Homo sapiens: one gene and its partner. The protein of the gene in region 2 purifies or fractionates together with the protein of the main gene of each other region. This does not show direct contact. Each region holds a gene or a part of one and is shown on either strand. Other genes may lie near its edges.

Region 1 (9,862 bases), on a different chromosome or scaffold from region 2:
GGCCAAATCCAAAATAAAACAGGTCCACTGAGAAGAGTCTGAAATGGGCTTTGGCTAGATATCCTCTCTTGGTGTCTATTAACACCTTTCTTTTACACATTGAAGATATTATGGGTGTGCCAGGGCAGAGAGCTGAGCCTCAAGTAGGTAAGAACAGTAGGATCCAAAGAGATAGATAGAATGTGATGAACAAAAGGCCTTCAGCAACATTAGCTATAGTGACGAACACCCTGCTTTAACAAGAGAGTTTCTTCCAATCGAAAAGCTTCTTGGCCAGGCATGGTGGCTCACACCTGTAATCCCAGCACTTTGGGAGGCAGAGGTGGGAGGATCACCTGAGGTCAGGAGTTCAAGACTAGCCTGGCCAGCATGGTGAAATCCCATCTCTACTAAAAATACAAAAATTAGCCGGGTATGGTGGCAGAAGTCTGTAATGCCAGCTACTCGGGAGGCTGAGGCAGGAGAATTGCTTGAACCCGGAAGGCGGAGGTTGCAGTGAGCCGAGATCACCTCATTGCACTCCAGCCTGGGTGACAGTCAGACTCTGTCTCAAAAAACAAAAAACAAAAAACAAAAAAAAAAGAAAAGCTTCTTGACACGGTGATTCACAGGCTGGTAGTCTCATGTAGGTGTACGTACATATTTGGCCAGTGAAGGTGAACAAATGCCTTGTACTTATTCTCTTCTGCATGTTCAGATTAATCAGTTTTCAGTTACACTGAGGGAAATTAAAGTATTCTGATTTCTTGGTCATTTAATCTATATATTTTTGAACATGTAAGTAATTTTAAAGCTTACACGGCACTTTTTGGCAATGCCATAAATTGTCTTGTTTGCTTACAAGGCGATAAAACGTTTGGAATGTAAGCAACGTAAGGAAGGGATCATGCCTTCCATTCAAACAATCCCAAACAAGAAACAAGAAATGCTTGTAAGTCTTAGAAAGATAACACTACTGCACTAAGATAAAAGAAGGCAGAGTAGTATAAATTTCCTAAAATCATACTTCTTTTGGGTCCTCTTAGAGGCCAAGTCTGTAAGTTTGATGGGCTATACCTCTGAACAGGTGTGGCCCAGGCAAGAGGCAATTCTTCCCCAGGAGGAAATGCTGACAGAAATAAGTTTGTGCGCTGGAGAGGAAGGGAAGCGATGGCAGCCACAGGCCTTGCATTCTAGTGGTTAGCTGGGGCAGCTGCAAGACTCTAAGGTTAAATGGAGATTAAAAAAAAAAAAACAACAACAACAATAATGCACAGTTCCACAACATTTCATGGTTTTTCAGAGTGCTTCCACCAATGAGGTTTCATACACATATGCACTTATAAACAATGCAGTATGTGTTTCCATATTCTATGTTCCCCTTTATTTTTCTCATTTTGCCATAGTCTGACAAGAACTTTGTCTCTATCACTAGTGCTTAAATGGTATTTGGGAACCACTCTTCTCCTCTCTCAAGGGAAGACCTGGGAACGATGGACAGAGGTGGGAAGATGCAAACATTAATCATCTCATAACCACACACAAAAATACAACACAACATGAACAAGGGACACTCGGGGGCAGAGAGGAAAGTTTACACTGGGAAGAAAAAAAGGCACGTGGGACTTCCACTAAGAGCACATGGAGCAACAGTTCTCAGTGATGGGGTGGTAACCTGGAGCACATGCTGGAGGAGGCCTGAACACTGCTTTAAGAATTTTTGGCAGGGAACCAGGTAAACCGAATTAGGACCTGGGGCCAGGTGCAGCAAGAGGAAGAGTCCTGTCAGTCCAGCAGATCTGAAGGGGATGACTGGTGGGATGAGGAGCAGTTGCTGAGTTTAGGCAGCACTCAGCCAGGGCAACCTCCTCTGTCTTAGCACCATTTCTCCTTTCCTCTTGCCTCTTTCTTCTCTTTCTACTCTTGATTCCTCTTGGATCTCAGGATTTCTCTCCTGTACCTTAACTGATCATAATATAAAATTGAAAAGGAATCAGTAAACACTGGTTAAAATTTTATGTTTAATCTTCTGAATTTTTAAAAAAGAAGCCAAGGTGAACTTTTCTCTTTTAATCCCTCAAAGATTCCTAGTATTGGACATAATAAAACAAAGTGGTATTAGTCTAGACATCCTGTTATATGAGAAGCCTGGATGAATATCTTTTTCTTGCCCAATGTCTTAATATTCAAGGTCACTATTTTCTCTGCTGCTCTCTTTCTGACAAGACAGCCAAGGGTCTTGATTAGGATGAGAAACCAAAGAACAAAAAGATCAAGCCAGTTAAAGTGCATGTTATTAGAAATGTTGCCAGTGACCTTAAAGAGCAACATCCTTTTCTGTTTTCCTGGTATAAGCACAAATTTTATCATCAGCTCTGAAAAGCTTACAAAATCAGTAAGAACAAGAAAGCAGACCTAGTCGAGGGAACTGTGTGTGTGAGAGCACAGCTCATGATTTCTGCACAGGATCTCCAGTGATGGGGTGTGTCTGTTCAGTCTGCCATATGTCCATCCTCCCATGGGGTTCCCCATAGGGATAAAACCACACATTTGCAAGACACCTGGCTGAGAAGCAGCTCTGAACCAGGGTTTTAATTTGGGAACTACTTACTGGTCCATAATGAGACTAAATACAGGGTCTTGGCCTAATTTGTATCAGACTCTTAAATATTGCAGTTGTTTATGCAGCGGAATGCTGTGATAAAACGGCTACAACAAGCAGCATTCACCAATTACACCACATGCAGCACCACAATAATCAACTACACCGTAAGCAGCACCACAATAAACGCTACTTATATCTAATTAACAACAAGATGCCCGAAGTTTACAATGAAAAGCAAACTAAAATATTAAGAAACTCTATCCAAATGCATTTTATTCAGCTGAGCTCTTTACATCTTTTTCCTCCTCTTTTATTGTTAAATTTAATTAAGATACTGAATTCTTAAGAAGGAAGAGGCCAGAAGGAGAGACTGTAAAATTTACAAAAATGTTTGGAGGGTGTTAAGTGGATTCCGATAGACACTATGGGGTATTCCTGTGAGGTAGGCACTGGGGAGATGCCTGAAGAGAAAGTTACAGGGGCAGTCCAGATTCCCTCAATGTGCAGAGGGAGAGAGGAGAAAATATTCTTACAAAAGATTGCACAAATCTAAGTCCACCATTCCTGGAAAGCCAAATGCCTTCTTAATTCAAAATTTCAGGTGAGAACCAAAGAGATGGATTCTATTACCCTGCTTTTGTTATCTTCTAACCAAATGTCTCCAGTGCCATGATCCATTTTTGCTTTAAACCACCCTTTCTTATCCTGCTTAAATTTTTCTGAACATTTCTGTGGAAGGCATGTCAAAGTCAATACTGCTGAGGTTTGTTTAAGGTTAGTGTGTGTGACAGACCAATCTGATCAGTCTCTGGGATTCAATCCTTACTACCTCCTCTTCTGCCTCTTCCTGGTACTGTTCATCAACATTGTCCTCCTGCTGGTCTGGATTTCCTGCCATCTGTTGGAAACAAAAGGGCAGGTTCATGTTACTGTACATCAGAGATGCCTTTTACACAGTACTCTGGGACAAAGAACAAGCATGCCACCATGAAAAGGGCACTTTCAAAGCGTCTGTGGCCAGGAAATGATGAGTAATCATTCCCAATACAAAGCCCAGGATGTCCGTTACCCTCTCTCTCAGAGTACAGGCATATCATGTCATAAAGTGGCCTAAAAACCACCGAAGTGGCAAACCTTCCGTCAATGTGGAATATGACTAACCTTTTACATAAACCAGATGTTTCTTAAAATAGCCCAGTTAAATCCACCCTTCCTCGTGGCATCTGCTTACCACCAAATGTTCCTCCACTTCTGTATTCTCTTGCTTTTGATTACTTTGTTTTTGCTCTTCATTTTCATCTGGCAAATTTTCTTCTCTCACTTGCTCGGCTTCTTCAAATTCATCCTCACCTTGATTATTAGGGTCATCTGCTGGGTTTATATCTTCTACAGCTGCCCTCTGTAAAATTTTAATAAAAAGCAACTATCACTTCAAAACTGAGGATCAAGTTTAATTTCATTTGAAAAGGCTGCCCACTGGCAGAAAATGAAATTGTCCTTCCCTCAATTGTTCAGATCTATCCTTGCCAAGACTCACAAGAATCAAGCATCACACTGTCAAAAGAGAAAACTCCTGCTTTACTTGTCAGAGGCTTGATGAATCAGAATGAGGTTCAAATAGCACTTCTTTCCTGCAAGTGATTTCAAAATAGTTCTCAAAACTCTACTGACACAAGTAATGTGAACAGAACTGAATAAACAAGAAAATAATTAATAAAAGTCAGAGGACCAAGTGACAAAAAAAATACTAATTTAGGTGGGGGATTTAGATGGGCAATTAACTCTTTTTGCTATGTTGATTTTTATAGTAACTTCCCTGTGCAAGCAATTTTTAACATGTCAGCAGGTGAAAAGTTGTTGATGGGAAAGAAGGCCCATACCAGAAAGGACCCATAAAAAGGATACGAAAAGGAGACAAGAAAAAGGCTAATTCAAAAGGAAATGGTCATTTTCTAGTATGGATCCAATTTCTTTATTAACAATCATTCCCATGAAACAGAGAGATGCTGAACTGGCGAGGGATGGGAGTTAAAAAGGGCTGAGCTACCCAACTGCCCAATAGGGCAATATATTATGAAAAATGTCCTCCCAACTCATCTCCCAAATTACTGTGCTCAACAAAGGCCCTTCATATTATCAACTTTAGAATTATTTCAATTTTCCACTTAAGCTCCCAAAGCACCTTCCAAATAATACACATCCTAATAAAGATTTAGATTTTAGAGCCTGAGATGGAGAGGAACAGTGATGCTTGTCATGAGCTTCCCCAATCACTCGCAGGTCATCAATAGGACACTTACTAAGCTGTAAATGCTTCTAAGAGACAGTAAAGCCACAGAGTAGGATTTGGTCTCTATCAGTATTCTCCAGACAAGATTCTACTTCAATTCACTTAGGAGTCTTGAACATGTTTGAGAGTTCACTGCCATCTCAGCTGATCTATTATCTGCACATCCCTGGCCATGAATGTTACTCCAGTGCAAATGACACTATTCTTGGGAACGTAGAGACTACCAAATTACCACCTTCACACTAAACTCTAATTACTCCACAATCTCTTGTCATATGGATTTTCTTTAGTGCACTATCAAAAATTTGTATGGAATTACAGGAAAAATGTAACATATTCTTTTCAGAAAAAAGTACCAAATATCTTTTGCAAACGTTCATAAAATTGACTAGCTCAACTCCGACCACGTAACAGGTATGAATTAGCAGGCACAGTTGTTACGTTCAAATAAAACAGAAAGAGAGGAACAAGTGGGATTAACCATTTCTAATTAAAAGGAAGAATGGTACAAAGGCCAATGTTTCCCAGCATGTTCCCCAAAACAAACAAACAGATGACAGGAAAGTAAAGGATCATATAGTCAAGAAATCAAAGCCTACAGCAGTTCCCAAACAAGTGACTGAAATGCCCTTCCTCCCACCCCATGCACATTTGCAGGCCTTTGTACACTTGCTTTCTTGCTCTCTCCTGGATAGTCTCTTGCTCTCTCATATGTTTCTGCTCTCAAGTATTAGCCTTTTCCTGAAAATATTTCAGGACTAGGTTCCCTGGAGCATATTTTCAGAAATCTTGATGCAAGGAATGCCAGGGAAAGGTGTTCTGCCACATCTCAGTGCAAGTTAAGTGGAAAAGCTGTTTCCAGCAAAAGGGCTTTAAGTAGCTAGCAGGATGACTTTCTTGATGATTAGCAAGGACATGGGTCCTCCTTTTAATCAGGGCTCATGTGACATAGCACAGACCGACTGTTATAAACATGGTAGTTGATCTATTAGCAAGAGATGACAGGGCAGCTAAAATAAGCTGTAAAAATCATCTACGCATACACGCAGGAACAGACTCACTAAACATTTGCTTGCTTCACTTGTAGGCAGGGCCAAGGATCTAGCCCACCCAGCTGAACTAGAGGTCTCAGTCTTTTTTGGTAAACACAAACAACAATGCTGGTTATTAGATGTCTACCTACTTATATTATAAATTTTCTGTACCATTGCATACCTGAACAACTCTTCATGTCTCAGACCACATATCCTTATCCATATATTTATTAAAATGGTCACTAGACTGCTAAGAGATTACAGAGAGTCACACAAATACCTAACACTCTAGCAGACTGCTCAACATGCTCAGGAAGGGTTAGTTTCCTTTCTCTGGTCCCATCTCCAACTTCCACACTTGCCTTTTATTCCTCCTAGCTTTCAGAGTTACTACATATTTCAGTGTCTCTCAGTTTTGCTTTTCTAGGTTTTAGTTTTATTAATCTAAAAGTCATCAGAAAAAAAAAATCCTGGTTTTGTTTTTTTTTTTCCCCCAGAGCAACTTTTAAACCAGCTCATCACATACACGTACACCATGGTTTACAGTTAAAAACACTGCCCATATATAATTATGCAAGCCATTTTCCTTCTGGGCTGAGGATATAACAGAAATATCTGGGGCTGAAGGCTGGCATCAGGCAAGTTTTCAACTCTCTTTCCCACCTTATGAGTTTACATGTGTCAGGGGCAGAAGAGAGGATACTTACATCTGCCTCAGATTCTGGGTCGGCTTCTCGGGGTCCTTGTTCACGAGGCTCATGTCTATTACCTGGATCTCCTTCTGCTTCATCTTGGTGCTGGTTGTCTCTTTCATAGGCTAGCAAATCAAAGGAACTAAAATCAGCCCAAAATGAATCAAACAGGATTTCCCTTTCAACTCAAAGAAAAGCCACCAGTGGACTTTTCTACAGACTACAATACCTCCACCTCTGTTAACTCAACATAAGGCCTATGTCCTGGCTTTTCTGAATAAGGTTATGTTCTCTTCACAGACTGTGTGTCTAGAGAGATGATATGGGTCAGACACTTTTCTTCTAAAATAAATATTTTTCACAGGAGCTGTAATTTTTCCCCCATATGCAAGAAAACAACAACAATCAAAACTCTCTCAATAAAAGAAAGCCCAGTTGATTGGACACTGCTGAAGAAATCAACTAATGTTTGATAATATCAGAGGAAGTAGCTGGGCTCCAAAAGAAGAAATTGATAGTTTCAGGAAATGCAAGGAAGAACTGCCCCATCTGTGGAGCTCAGAAACAAATATAGCCCATCACATGTTTTCTGATGTCATCACAGTAATGATGATGACCGCCACAGCCCAGAAACAGCACACATTCATACTCAGACATTTACTTGCTGCTTTTTGAAAAAATATTTAGATAAAGAGAATTGTATGAGCACAAAAAGAGAAGAACAAATCACTTTTTAAAACAAGTAAGATAGAAGAGGAAAGTTTAAGTATATGGAGTGTACTAAGCCTAGAGAAAATGATGATACGGGGTAACTTACCATCAGCCTTCAAGTGCACAAAGGGGTTTACTACATAGAGAAGAGGACAAGCCATTCTCTAGTCTTACTGATATGAGAACAAAAAAGCTTAAAGTGCCACATGGCGGACATAAGGAAAACAATTTCTTGACTGTAAGAGCTGTAAGATATCACAACGGGCTATTGAGGGAGGTTGTATGTAATCACTTTCTTTCTGACTTTTTAGAAAAAGATACACATCTAAGTGTTAGTGGTGCCAGAGAGACAGTAAGTTACATTCTGGTTCTATTATAACAGTAAGCAATATTTGATAAATTACATATTAAGTGCTTATCATAAATGAAAGCTACTATTGACTTAATTTGAAAACATTTTAAGGCAATGATGTGAGGACTTCCAAGGTAAGGAGAAAATGCAGATGTTTCCCAAAGCATAATAATCCTATAATAATTTGTCAGAAATATTATAAATATTTAGTATATAAAAAGCTTAAACTACAGGGAAAATGATAGAGAGGAAACAGATTATCTTGAGCATTTTTCACTACCAGCATGTACTGTTTAAGAGGATTAAGAAAAAGACATGATTCACAAACCTCCTTTGCACTTAGGTATGCATACAGCTCATTGATGTTATATAATATTGGCTCACTGATAATATACAATGTTATCAAGTAATTTATTAAAACATTCATCATCTAGGAAGTCTCACCACCTCCTTCCTCTCCTTGGATTCCCTGGTCCTCTGCTCCCTGAACGATATCATTATCCATAGCATCATAATGAGCTTGCTGCCTACAAGAGACACAAACATGATAAATCCAGTGGGACAAAATTCAGAGGCACAGTTTGACATAGGTCATTTATCTTTAAAGACAGTAATAAGTAATGTTTCTCAACATTTTTAAGAAGCCATGAAAAATTTTTAAAAACCTCTTATGTATGCAATTAGGTATAATAAAAATTCCAGATACACTTTCAAAAGGTATCTTAAAAAGATAAAATATCTTTTAAAGATAAAATAAAATAAAGTTGGCACAAAGCCTGCAAGGCTATTTGGAGACCTAACCTACCACTTTTGAGCAGAAAAAAAATATTATTTTTAAAATTAAATATTTGGTATTTAATTTTCAAGTAGCTGTCCTGCCTTGGCTATTTGAGCAATATGAGCCCCTTAACTTCATGAATCACAAATGCACAAAACTGTTTTTAATTTGCGTATGAAAACTGGAGCAGGGGCTGTCTTCGTTCATTAAGGAAGGGGAAGGCTACCGGAGCTGCTCCTGGTGCTGCGGCCGGCCCTCCTCAAGCTCAGCCTGCCTCTGCAGGGCCATCTCTCTTGCCACCTGCTGCTGCTGCTGTTCCTGCTGCCGTAGTAAGTGCCCCTGCAGCCTCTGCTGGTGCAAAGCTTCCTGGTGTTCCCGCAGCTGCTGGGCCTCCTCCACCTGCTGCACTGCCAGTCTCTGCTGTTCCAACTGTTCCTCATAGGGTGATTGGAATTTGATCATTGGCTTGGCTGAAGGGTACACCTAGGGTGAAAAAGAGTTGGTGCAGAGCAAGAGGGGTTAGCTCCTCTGGGTTTTCTCTTCATTTGTTTCTCCTGACAAACTCAGGAGGCAGAGCTGGTTTATTAACGACTATTTGTCAGGTGAACTGTGATTATACATGAAGTCCAAAAACTCCTATTTCCCAACTTTCTCTGAATCACCCTTGGCTTTTTTAGCAGCTGATATTTCCAACTACTGCTATTAAGGCAGATTTTCAATGTGCTCCCTTCTCAAATGGAACAGAAGGGACAACCGAAGATAACAGTTTCAAACTGTAAAATTTATGTTCACAAGGCTCTGATATAAACAAGTAGTTGGTAACTTTGGTAACTTCACATTAACTGGGCAATCTGTGACCTTATGCTACGCCTAAGGCTTTTTCCATGAACAGTTAAAGACCGAGGGATGCTAATTAACTCTAGTAATGTATATACCAATCCCAGGCTAAGCATAGCCAAAAAAAAAAAAAAAAAAAGCCACATTCCAGGTAATAGTGGAAAAGCAGATATTCAATTTTTTTTCAAAGAAACTAAGAATGGCTGAGAAGATGGTGCCTTCTGATTAAAGGGAAATCTGATACAGCAATTCTTAAAACTCTGCTTCCCTGAGATATTATCTCACCCCAGTTATAATGGCTTTTATCAAAAAGGCAACAACAAACGCTAGTGAGGATGTGGAGAAAGGGGAACCCTCGTACGCTGTTGGTGAGAATGTAAATTAGTATAGCCAATATGAAAAACAGTATGGAGGTTCCTCAAAAAGCTAAAAATAGAACCACCATATGATCCAGCTATCCTATTACTGGGCACATATCCAAAAGAAAGGAAATTGCTATATTGAAGAGATACTTGCACTCTCAGGTTTATTGCAGCATTACTCACAATGGCTAAAACATGAAATCAACCTAAGCATCCATCAAC
Region 2 (9,862 bases):
TTGTGAAGGAACAGGAAAGGCCTGAACCCCATCCAGGGCTTTAGATCCTGGGCTTCCCTTTCTGGCAACCCCTCTACCTCAAGGAGGCCTTGGCTAAGAGCCTTAGGGCAGGCCCAGCTCAAGCTGAAGTCAGCTGGCCTCCTCCTCCAGGAAGTCCTCCCTGACCACCATGCTCTCTCTCTGTACTTGCCATGTTCTTTCTCTCTGCTGCACTGTGGGTCTTTTTCTACAGGGGAAGCTGAGGCCCTCCAGGTACAGATGGGGTTAATACCCACCTCCTACAGGCAATAGGGTATGATGCTGACCAGGGATTTTCAAACAAAGAGCCAAAGAGCTCAGCCAAGGTCCTGCCTCAGCTCTGGAAAGAGTCTTCTGTTACTTCATCCCAACTGCTTGGTGCCATCCTCACACCCACATCTCACCATTTCAGGAGAAGACCGGGAGCCCCCAGCAGTGAGGAGCCCCTTTGTGCCTGGCTCTTCTGGGTGTGTTTTTCTTTTTTCTTTCTTTTTTTTTTTTTTGAGACAGAGTCACACTCTGTCACCCTGGCTGGAGTGCAGGGGTACCATCTCAGCTCACTGCAACCTCTGCCTGCTGGGTTCAAGTGATTCTTCTATTTCTGCCTCCCAAGTAGCTGGGACTATAGGCATGCGCCACCACACCCAGCTAATTTTTTAATTTTTAGTAGAGATGGGGTTTCATCATGTTGGCCAGGCTGGTCTTGAACTCCTGACCTCAGGCGATCTGCCTGCCTCGGCCTCCCAAAGTGTTGGGATTACAGGTGTGAGCCACCGCGCCTGGCCTGGGTGTGTTTTTCATGTGCTACTTCACATCATCCGCATCACCGCCTAGAGGAGTTGCAGCTGCAGATGAAACAGTAGAGCCTCCTAAAAGTGAAGTCGCTTGCTGCGTGTGAAGATGCCTAGCACTGGGCCTGTGACATAGCACTCACTCCCCAGGTGCTGTTGTTTGGGAAAAGCTCTCTCAAACGGTGTTTTTCCTCTGCCCTCCCACCACCACAGCAGCAGTCATCAACACAGGAGGCCTCTGTGACCAAATGTGTGGGGGCTTCTCCCCACCACCAAGCAAGCAATTAATTCTGTAGCAGACACCAGGTGGGTGTCCTCCAATTCAGTTCTAGCACAAGAGTCAGATCCCATGGGTTGAGGGCTCAGTCCCCATGACTGCCTCCTCCTCCAGACACCAGTCGCAAGTCTGGGCCTCCAGAACTTCTGGCCGACCCGCTGCAGGTTGGGGTTCCCACGACCCCCTCTTTGAGTTTGATTAATTTGCTGGAGCAGCTCACAGAACTCAGGGAAACACATTAACTGGTTAATTATAAAGGATATTGCAAAGGATACAGATGAAGAGATGCATAGGGTGAGGTATGGGAGAAGGGACATGGAGCTTCCTTGCCCTTTCTGGACCCACCATCCTCCAAGAAGCTCCATGTGTTCAGCTGTCTGGAAGCTCTCCGAACCCTGTCCTTTTGGGTATTTACGGAGGTTTCCTTACATAAGCATGATGGACAAATGTGATTGCACATAAAACACCTGATCTAAACCCAGCAAGGCCTGTCTGCTTAGACTTTACTTGGCCTTTCCGTGGCATTCCTTCCTCTAGGGTATGGGGCAGGACCCTCTCTGGAATGACCCATGATTAGATTAGAGCCCTGCCTTGGACAGGTGAAAGGAGGACAGGAATAGGTCAGAGAGAAATTTTGTTTCCTGAGGCCTGTTTCTGAGGCCTAAAGTGTCCAACATTATAACATAAGACTGTACAAAGGGTTTTATATATATAAATAAATATGTATTATGTTGTGCAAAAGTAATTGCTGTTTTTGCCATTACTTTAAAAAAATGGCAAAAACTGCAATTACTTTTGCACTAACCAAATATATGTAAATATCACAACTATCTATACCTCTCCCTCTTCTTCTTGAGATTGGGAAGCAGCTCAGGTCTGCTCCTTCTGGTATCGAAACCTCTTTTGGTGGGAAGCTTGGACTTCATCATCTGACCCACATGGATTCAAATCCCACCTCTGTTCCCTAGTAGACTTGCATGGTACACATAAGAGCTGCTATTTCCTGAGTGCTTAAGTATGCTAGGCGTTGTGCTAAGTGGGCTACTACATCAAATCCTCAACAAGCCTATGTGCAGATAGGGAAACAGAGGCTCAGAAAGAGAAGCCACCTGCCCCTGGTCACAAGGTTTGGCAAATTGCAGTCAAGATTTGATCCCAAGTCTGTGATGCCAAAGCCCACTCATTGATCCACCACGTGGTGCTGTGGACAAATCCCTTCACTCCTCAGATCCTCAGTCACATCATCTGTCAAATCGGGAGGAGTACCAGTGGCTGGCAGGTACCCAGGACAGGGTCTGGCATGGTTTGCGCTTGCTTCCTCGCCACTTGCTTGGGCATTTTCCTGGGTTTCTGATGCCTCAGGCTCCTGATGGGGCTCCAAACACTAAGGTTTGGGAGTGAGTGCCAGGGAGAAGCTTGCAATTCCTTTCTGAACCAATAGTGTTCTCAGGTTTATCAGGCAACCAGCTCAGGCCTTTGATGAACTCACTAAGATATATGGACCTCATTACCAACCAAAGGACTCACATGTATTTCAATCCTCACTTCCTCCCCTCTTTCTCATTTCAACTGTTAGTACTGGTTGCAAATCATGGGAAGTTGCTTCATCTAGTCAGTCATACATGTGCCTAGTCCACACATGACTGTGCTTTTGCATGTCACATTCCTGCAGGCAGAGACCTAATTTGGCCGACTTTGGGCAATGACTGAATTCCATTGACATCTGTCAAGTAGGAAAAATAGTGGTGCCTGACTCAGAACGCGTGGCCTGAACGAGGCTCTGTACTTACGCCATTTAGCATTGTGCCCGGCTTGAGTGGATTGGCGGCAACTGTTGTTTTTAAAGGAGATCTCATTGGGCTGGATTATGGCATGCATGGTCCTGCCAGGCCCAGGGCCCACTGTCTGTCCTCTATGGGAAGATAGAGGGGCAGGTGACAGAACACTGAGTAACAATCCGGAGATCTCAGTTCAAACCCCACCTCCATCACCAGTGACCTGCGTGACCCTAATGAAGTCACTCAGCCTTTTGGGGTCTCAGTTTCCTTATCCACAAAGTGGAGATGATTCTATTCCTGATCTTATGGGTTGTTGTGAAGTTCCAATAATATAGCAATCCTGATAACTAGTTTTTGAGGAGGGTCTTTGATGGATGACTGAGCCAGTGGTGGTTGGGGGGTCCTGGGAAGTACTGGGGGAGTTGGCAGTGTAGGGACATCTTGGTATTGGGAGGGGACCTTGGTAGAGGGAGAGGGTGGAGGAGGGAGAATTTCACTAGAGGGAGGGAGCAGTGTGGGGAAGGGCCTGAAGAGAGGGAGGAGGGCAGGTGGGCCTGGGTAGAAGGGAGAGTGGGGCTACCCTCCAGGAGCCCTCCTGGCCAGCAGCCCTGCCTTAGCCTGGGCTAACCAGGCCCTGCTCTCACAGCTGGCTGCACCTTCGAGGAGGCAAGTGACCCAGCAGTGCCCTGCGAGTACAGCCAGGCCCAGTACGATGACTTCCAGTGGGAGCAAGTGCGAATCCACCCTGGCACCCGGGCACCTGCGGACCTGCCCCACGGTAAGTCTACTCTCCATCGCCATTACCCCTTCTTCTCCTTCCAGAGGCACTTCTACCCACCTGCTGTGTGACCTTGGGCACATTACTTAACCTCTCTGGGCCCCATCTACATTTGCATCTTTAATGACATACGTGACACTGAATGTGGCTTTCTCTGGACACTGTCTAATTGTGCATGTCAGCTAGTTTCGTGTGTAAAATGAGTGCAGGCCCTCATGGCTGTGAGCTAAAACTCACTTCCAATTACTCCCCTTGCTGCCTAGCTCAGGATCCAAACCACTCCCACTCTCAGTTCTTCCTAAATCCTCCATCTTTGAGAGGCTCTCTTCAGAGATTCTTTTCTCCCAAAGAGCCCCTGAATCCTGGTCTCTCCAGGACTTGAAGATGCTGAAAGAGCAGTAACACTGGGACTAGATGTGTATAAAACCTTCCTTCCTCTGCCCTCTTCCTCCTGGAAGTCCCAGATTCTTCTCGACTTCTACCTTGCTGTGTTCCTATTTCAAGATGGGGCACCTTTGTCATCCTGAGCTCTGGACTGGGAGTCAGGAGACTAATAATATGGATTCTAGTACTGACTTCCTGCTTTCATCATGGCCCCTAGAACACTCATTCCAGAGTCACGAAGACCTGGGCTCAAACCCTGTCTCCAGTCACTTTACCAGCAGTGTCACTTAACGTATCTGAGCCTCCATTGTCTTCACTGTAAAATGAGGCAAACAGGACTCCATTTCAGAGGGTCATGAGATGATGCATATAAAGTACAGAGCACAGGGGTGGCATGCAGGGGTCAGTTATTTAATTGCTATGGTTGAGGGTCTTTGGGGGCCCTGATTACTAGTACTGCTCTTCACTGGATGCAGGATCAACTGGGAATTAAAAAAGAATGAGACAAATAAAGGCCAAATTGTCAACTTTATTACTGATAAGGGCTGTGTCAGAGGACAAATCAAATGGGCTTTCCGAGTGAATCCTGAAATTCCACAGCCTGAAGCCCACTCCCTTTGCCCCATCACACTAGTGCCCAGGGTGTTTACTGCCTAGCTCACGTCATGGCTGAGATTGCATCTGTTGTCAGGGAGGGGCAGCAAAGATTCTCAGTGGTGGGGCCAGGACTTGAAGCCACTAGGAGAGAAGACCTTCATGACCTGGCACAGGCGCCTCCTGCGGACTCTCATGGCTTGCCCCGCCTCCCCTTCTGTGCATTTGCTCACACTGTGCCCTTCCTGGGGCACTTATCTCTGCCTCTGCAGGTGTTAGTGGGTATCACAGTTTGCCTTCTCTGAAAATAATCTGTAAAGGTACCCACCATGGCAGGGACCTCGTGTGGGCCTCTCCATATTCCCAGGGCCCAGCCTCAGTCTGATACATGGTTGGCAGTCAGGTACAAGGCAGCTGATTGGAATTCACCTCTTATAGTACTGACCACCCTGAGTGCACACTGCCTCTCTTGTCACGTGCAAGCAGAGACATACCCAGTGAGAAAGGGGAGAGGGGAATTTAGCAATTAGTGTGAGCCTTGTGCTAGGTCTTGAGGATGTGGTGGTGAGCCAGATGGACAGTCTTTGTCCTCCTGGTTCTCACATTCTAGGAATGGGAGCTGGTGGTGGAGGGAGAAGAAAGGAGGGAGATTCACACTCAGAGATGGAGAGAGGAGAAGGAAGAGCGACAGGGACAAAGGGAGTAAATGAAAGAGAAGGGGAGGGATGTAGTGAGCCGAGGAGGAGGCAGAGGGAGCAGGAGGAGGAGGAAAGAACAAAGTGTCAGATTGGAAGAGGGAGAAAGATGCACACAGCTGCTCGCAGGGAGAGGAGAGAGAAGTAGCATGAGTGGGCCAAGAGGGAGTGTGTTGGGGGTTGAGAAGTGCCCCTTCCTGGGTGGGGATGGGGACTTGAGTTTAGTTTACTACTGCCCTGCTGGGACTGATCCAGGAGCCGCCTCCATAGGGCTTCTAGCTTACAGAGATGAATGAGATCGCCTCCAGCAGAGTCCCTGGGGAGCCCTCCTGGAGCGGGGATCTGAGTGAGCTTGTGTTGGCTGGCAGCCAAGCCCGGGAGGAGGCAGCGCTGGGTGGTTTCGGGTGCCCTTTGGGAAGCCCAAATCCCCCCGCCAGGTCCTGAGCCAGCCTAGTCCACTTCTACTCCACCAGTACCCAGCCTGGGTCTCTGGGGAAGGGACAGGCTGCCTTTCTCCAGGTTGGAAGTCAAGGGGATTTGTATTCCAGGAATTTAGACTCAGGGATGGGGGCTGGAAGGGAAGTTGGAATCCTTTCATTCAATCTCTGTTCTACATATTCATTCAGCTTGCGTCCTGAGGCCTCACAGCCTGGTGGGAGACACACAGGCACTTTAGTAATGACCCAGGGGGCAGGAGAGAAGCCCAGGGTGGGAGGCAGAGGGAGGGCTTTGGAAGGGGTGGCCTTTGAGGGACTGTTGTGTGCCAAGCTCTTGACTCCAGGGATGAATGACCTAGTCCCTGTCTCCAGGGATAGCTCAGAACATGGGGAAAGCTGTGGTTAGGCTGGGCATGGGCATTGTGACCTGTAGATTGTAAGGAGCCATAATTTTTTTTTTCTTTTTGAGACCGAGTCTTGCTCTGTCACCCAGGCTGGAGTGCAGTGGCGTGATCTTGGCTCACTGCAACCTCTGCCTCCCAGGTTCAAGCAATTCTCCTGTTTCAGCCTCCCGAGTAGCTGGGACTACAGGCACATGCTACCACACCCTGCTAATTTTTGTTTTTTTAGTAGAGACAGGGTTTTACCATATTGGTCAGGCTGGTCTCGAACTGCTGACCTCAGGTGATTCACCCACCTCAGCCTCTCAAAGTGTTGGGATTATAGGCGTGAGCCACCGCGCCCAGCCTTTAAATGGTTTTGACAAAGTCAGGTTTGTGTGTTTTTTACTGCTCCAGGTCTCCTGTGGGAAACAGATGCTAGGAAGTGAAGGGACTCACCCAGGGAGGTGGAGCTGGGGCCAGAACTCAGAATCCCTGACTCCTGGTGGGTCCCGTTGCCTGGAGTCCTCCTCAGTGCTCCCCTTGCCCTGGCCCTGTCCCTCCCCTGAGGTCTCCTCATCTCCTGCCTCTTCCTCCTCTCTTTCCAGGCTCCTACTTGATGGTCAACACTTCCCAGCATGCCCCAGGCCAGCGAGCCCATGTCATCTTCCAGAGCCTGAGCGAGAATGATACCCACTGTGTGCAGTTCAGCTACTTCCTGTACAGCCGGGACGGGCACAGCCCGGGCACCCTGGGCGTCTACGTGCGCGTTAATGGGGGCCCCCTGGGCAGTGCTGTGTGGAATATGACTGGATCCCACGGCCGTCAGTGGCACCAGGCTGAGCTGGCTGTCAGCACTTTCTGGCCCAATGAATATCAGGTGGGCTGGGTTCAGTCAGCGGTCAGCCTGTGCCTGGAGGTGGGGCAGATGGATGTCAAATTGAGGTTGGAGTAGATGAGTGGCTGAAGTTAGAATGTGTCTGCATTCAGTATCAGAGGCAACCTGTGGTCAAGGCCAGGGGTCAGTCTGGGGCCAGTCTGGGTTCAGCATCTGAGGTCATTGTTCCTAGGAATAGCCTCTGGCCCAGGTCAAGGGTGAGTTGGAACAGTGCTGACCTGGAAACTCTGTCTGGCTGCTTGAGGGTAACTGTCCAGGATTTGGGTGGAAACTGGCCTCCACCTTGTTCACTATGGGCGCTGGGACCCCACCCCCAACTAGCTGGCTTGGGAGGGAGGGTCAGTGTGAGCTGGGCTGACCTCTGCTAGTTGAGGCAGAGGAGGCTGAGGCCGAGCTGAAAGTGGGCACCTCCCCAGGCAAGGCTGGAGGAATATCAGTATGATAGGGGCCCTCCCGCCTCCCCCAGGTGCTGTTTGAGGCCCTCATCTCCCCAGACCGCAGGGGCTACATGGGCCTAGATGACATCCTGCTTCTCAGCTACCCCTGCGGTGAGTCCCAGCCCACTGGGGGCGCAGGGGTAAGGGGTGTGGGCGGCCGCGGCTCCTGCCTGCAGGGGGTGCAGGCCCAGCTCACGATGCAGCTCTAACCCCGCAGCAAAGGCCCCACACTTCTCCCGCCTGGGCGACGTGGAGGTCAACGCGGGCCAGAACGCGTCGTTCCAGTGCATGGCCGCGGGCAGAGCGGCCGAGGCCGAACGCTTCCTCTTGCAAGTGAGCGGGAGCGGTGATCTTGGCTGGGGGCGGGGTGGGAGGGGGTTGGTGGCTGCTTCTGGCCCTGACTCCCCCCAGATTGCTGAGTCCCTGCTTCATACTCCAGCACTGCGCACAGCGTCCCGGCCCTCCCCTAGCTCTGCTCTGCGCTTTCTTGGGTCCCCCATTCCCCCAGGTTAGAGCGCGGCTCCAGGAACCTATGTCCGCGCGGTGTAGTAGGGACGGCTAAATGGGGCCCGGGTCAGAGCGAGATCGGGACCCCTCGCTCCGAGGCGCCCCTGACCCCCTCACTCTCTTCCCTGCAGCGGCAGAGCGGGGCGCTGGTGCCGGCGGCGGGCGTGCGGCACATCAGCCACCGGCGCTTCCTGGCCACTTTCCCGCTGGCTGCCGTGAGCCGCGCCGAGCAGGACCTGTACCGCTGTGTGTCCCAGGCCCCGCGCGGCGCGGGCGTCTCTAACTTCGCGGAGCTCATCGTCAAGGGTCAGCTGGTGGACGCCGGGGAGCGCCGGGACCTCACCCTCGAGGGGCGGGGCCGGCGACGGGGGCGGGCTCTGCCCGGGGGCGTGGCCGTGGGGGGTGGGGCCGGCAGGGTGTCGCTGGGGCGCTATCTGAAGATGGGCCTGTGGAAATGGCAGTGGCCCAGCCGGGATGAGATCTGATCTAGGGGTCGGGGCTGGCTTCGAGGGGGACGGACAGGGTCAAGGTGAGAGCCTAAAGAGGGGTGGGGTTCTGGCTGTGTGACTTCTGTGTTGATCCTAGCTGGCCTGCGGTCCGCTCCAGGAGGCGAGGATGTGGGGGATTAGGAGGGGCCTGAGAGAGGGGTTGTGGGCTGATGGGCGAGGGCGGGGTCAGCCTTTGGAGCCAGGTGCCCCTTAGGGCCCGGGATTTAGTGGGGGTAGGAGAGCGGGTCTGGTTGAGGGCTTGGTAGCAGCGTGAGAGGCCCTAGGAGGACGGAGAGGGATTTGGGTGTGGTGGAACTCAGAGTTGGGTGCTGGGGTCTCACAGCAGCATCGGTCCGCCTCGCCTCTCCCCCATCTCCTCGCAGAGCCCCCAACTCCCATCGCGCCCCCACAGCTGCTGCGTGCTGGCCCCACCTACCTCATCATCCAGCTCAACACCAACTCCATCATTGGCGACGGGCCGATCGTGCGCAAGGAGATTGAGTACCGCATGGCGCGCGGGCCCTGGGCTGAGGTGCACGCCGTCAGCCTGCAGACCTACAAGCTGTGGCACCTCGACCCCGACACAGAGTATGAGATCAGCGTGCTGCTCACGCGTCCCGGAGACGGCGGCACTGGCCGCCCTGGGCCACCCCTCATCAGCCGCACCAAATGCGCAGGTGGGTGCAGCAGCTACCCCTGGCCTCAGTCTCTGGTGGGCCCAGGGCTATGGAGGGGCGCATTCGAGAGGTAGCGTGGCCTGTGCTTGTAAACCTTTCTAAAACATTGTGATTTTTCCTCAACCCTTGTTATGGTAAAGATAATGATAGCTAATACTTTACTTTGTGTCAGGCACTTAAACATATCTGTGTGTAGACACACACACAAACCCATATTTATAGATTTAAAACTTACAACACTACCACGATGTAGGTGCTCTTGTCGTACCCATTTTAGATGTGACTGAGGTACAGAGATGTTAAGTGACTGGCCCAAGAGCACACAGCTAGTAAGTGGCAGAGATGGGATTGGAACTCTTGACTGGCTGACTCCAGAATCTGTGTTCTTAATTCTACATCTAGATAAAATAAGCAACTAAATACCATCAAATACAAGTATATTATACATTCTAGCTGGTTTCTCTTGTCTGGGTGTTGAGCCTGAGGTCTGCTCTTCCTTGTTAAAAAGGGCAAAGCAGCTGTTGGAGGATGGTACACCTGTGCCAGATGAGGGTCTTTTTTGTTTAATCAGAAGAGAAATTGAGAACACAATAGGTTTTTCTTTTTGTGACTTTAGTATTGTTGTTGTTATTATTTTTCCTTTTGAGACAGAGTTTTGCTCTGTCACCCAGGCTGGAGCACAGTGGCGCGATCTTGGTTCACTGCAACCTCCGCCTCCTGGGT

Evidence for each region.
Region 1: the proteins of PTPRU (region 2) and GOLIM4 purify together in Homo sapiens (affinity purification with mass spectrometry; 4 studies listed by BioGRID and IntAct, with this or other methods). This does not show direct contact.

The regions. Positions count from the first base shown.
Region 1 is NC_000003.12:168,021,113-168,030,974, forward strand, and holds part of GOLIM4 (Golgi integral membrane protein 4), read right to left. Parts: intron 8,925-9,862; coding exon 8,668-8,924; intron 8,191-8,667; coding exon 8,111-8,190; coding exon of another isoform or gene 8,108-8,110; intron 6,726-8,107; coding exon 6,616-6,725; intron 3,984-6,615; coding exon 3,816-3,983; intron 3,483-3,815; coding exon 3,414-3,482; intron 1-3,413. UniProt on the Homo sapiens protein: Plays a role in endosome to Golgi protein trafficking; mediates protein transport along the late endosome-bypass pathway from the early endosome to the Golgi.
Region 2 is NC_000001.11:29,251,765-29,261,626, forward strand, and holds part of PTPRU (receptor-type tyrosine-protein phosphatase U isoform 1 precursor), read left to right. Parts: intron 1-3,510; coding exon 3,511-3,642; intron 3,643-6,740; coding exon 6,741-7,012; intron 7,013-7,496; coding exon 7,497-7,578; intron 7,579-7,684; coding exon 7,685-7,800; intron 7,801-8,105; coding exon 8,106-8,280; intron 8,281-8,845; coding exon 8,846-9,139; intron 9,140-9,862.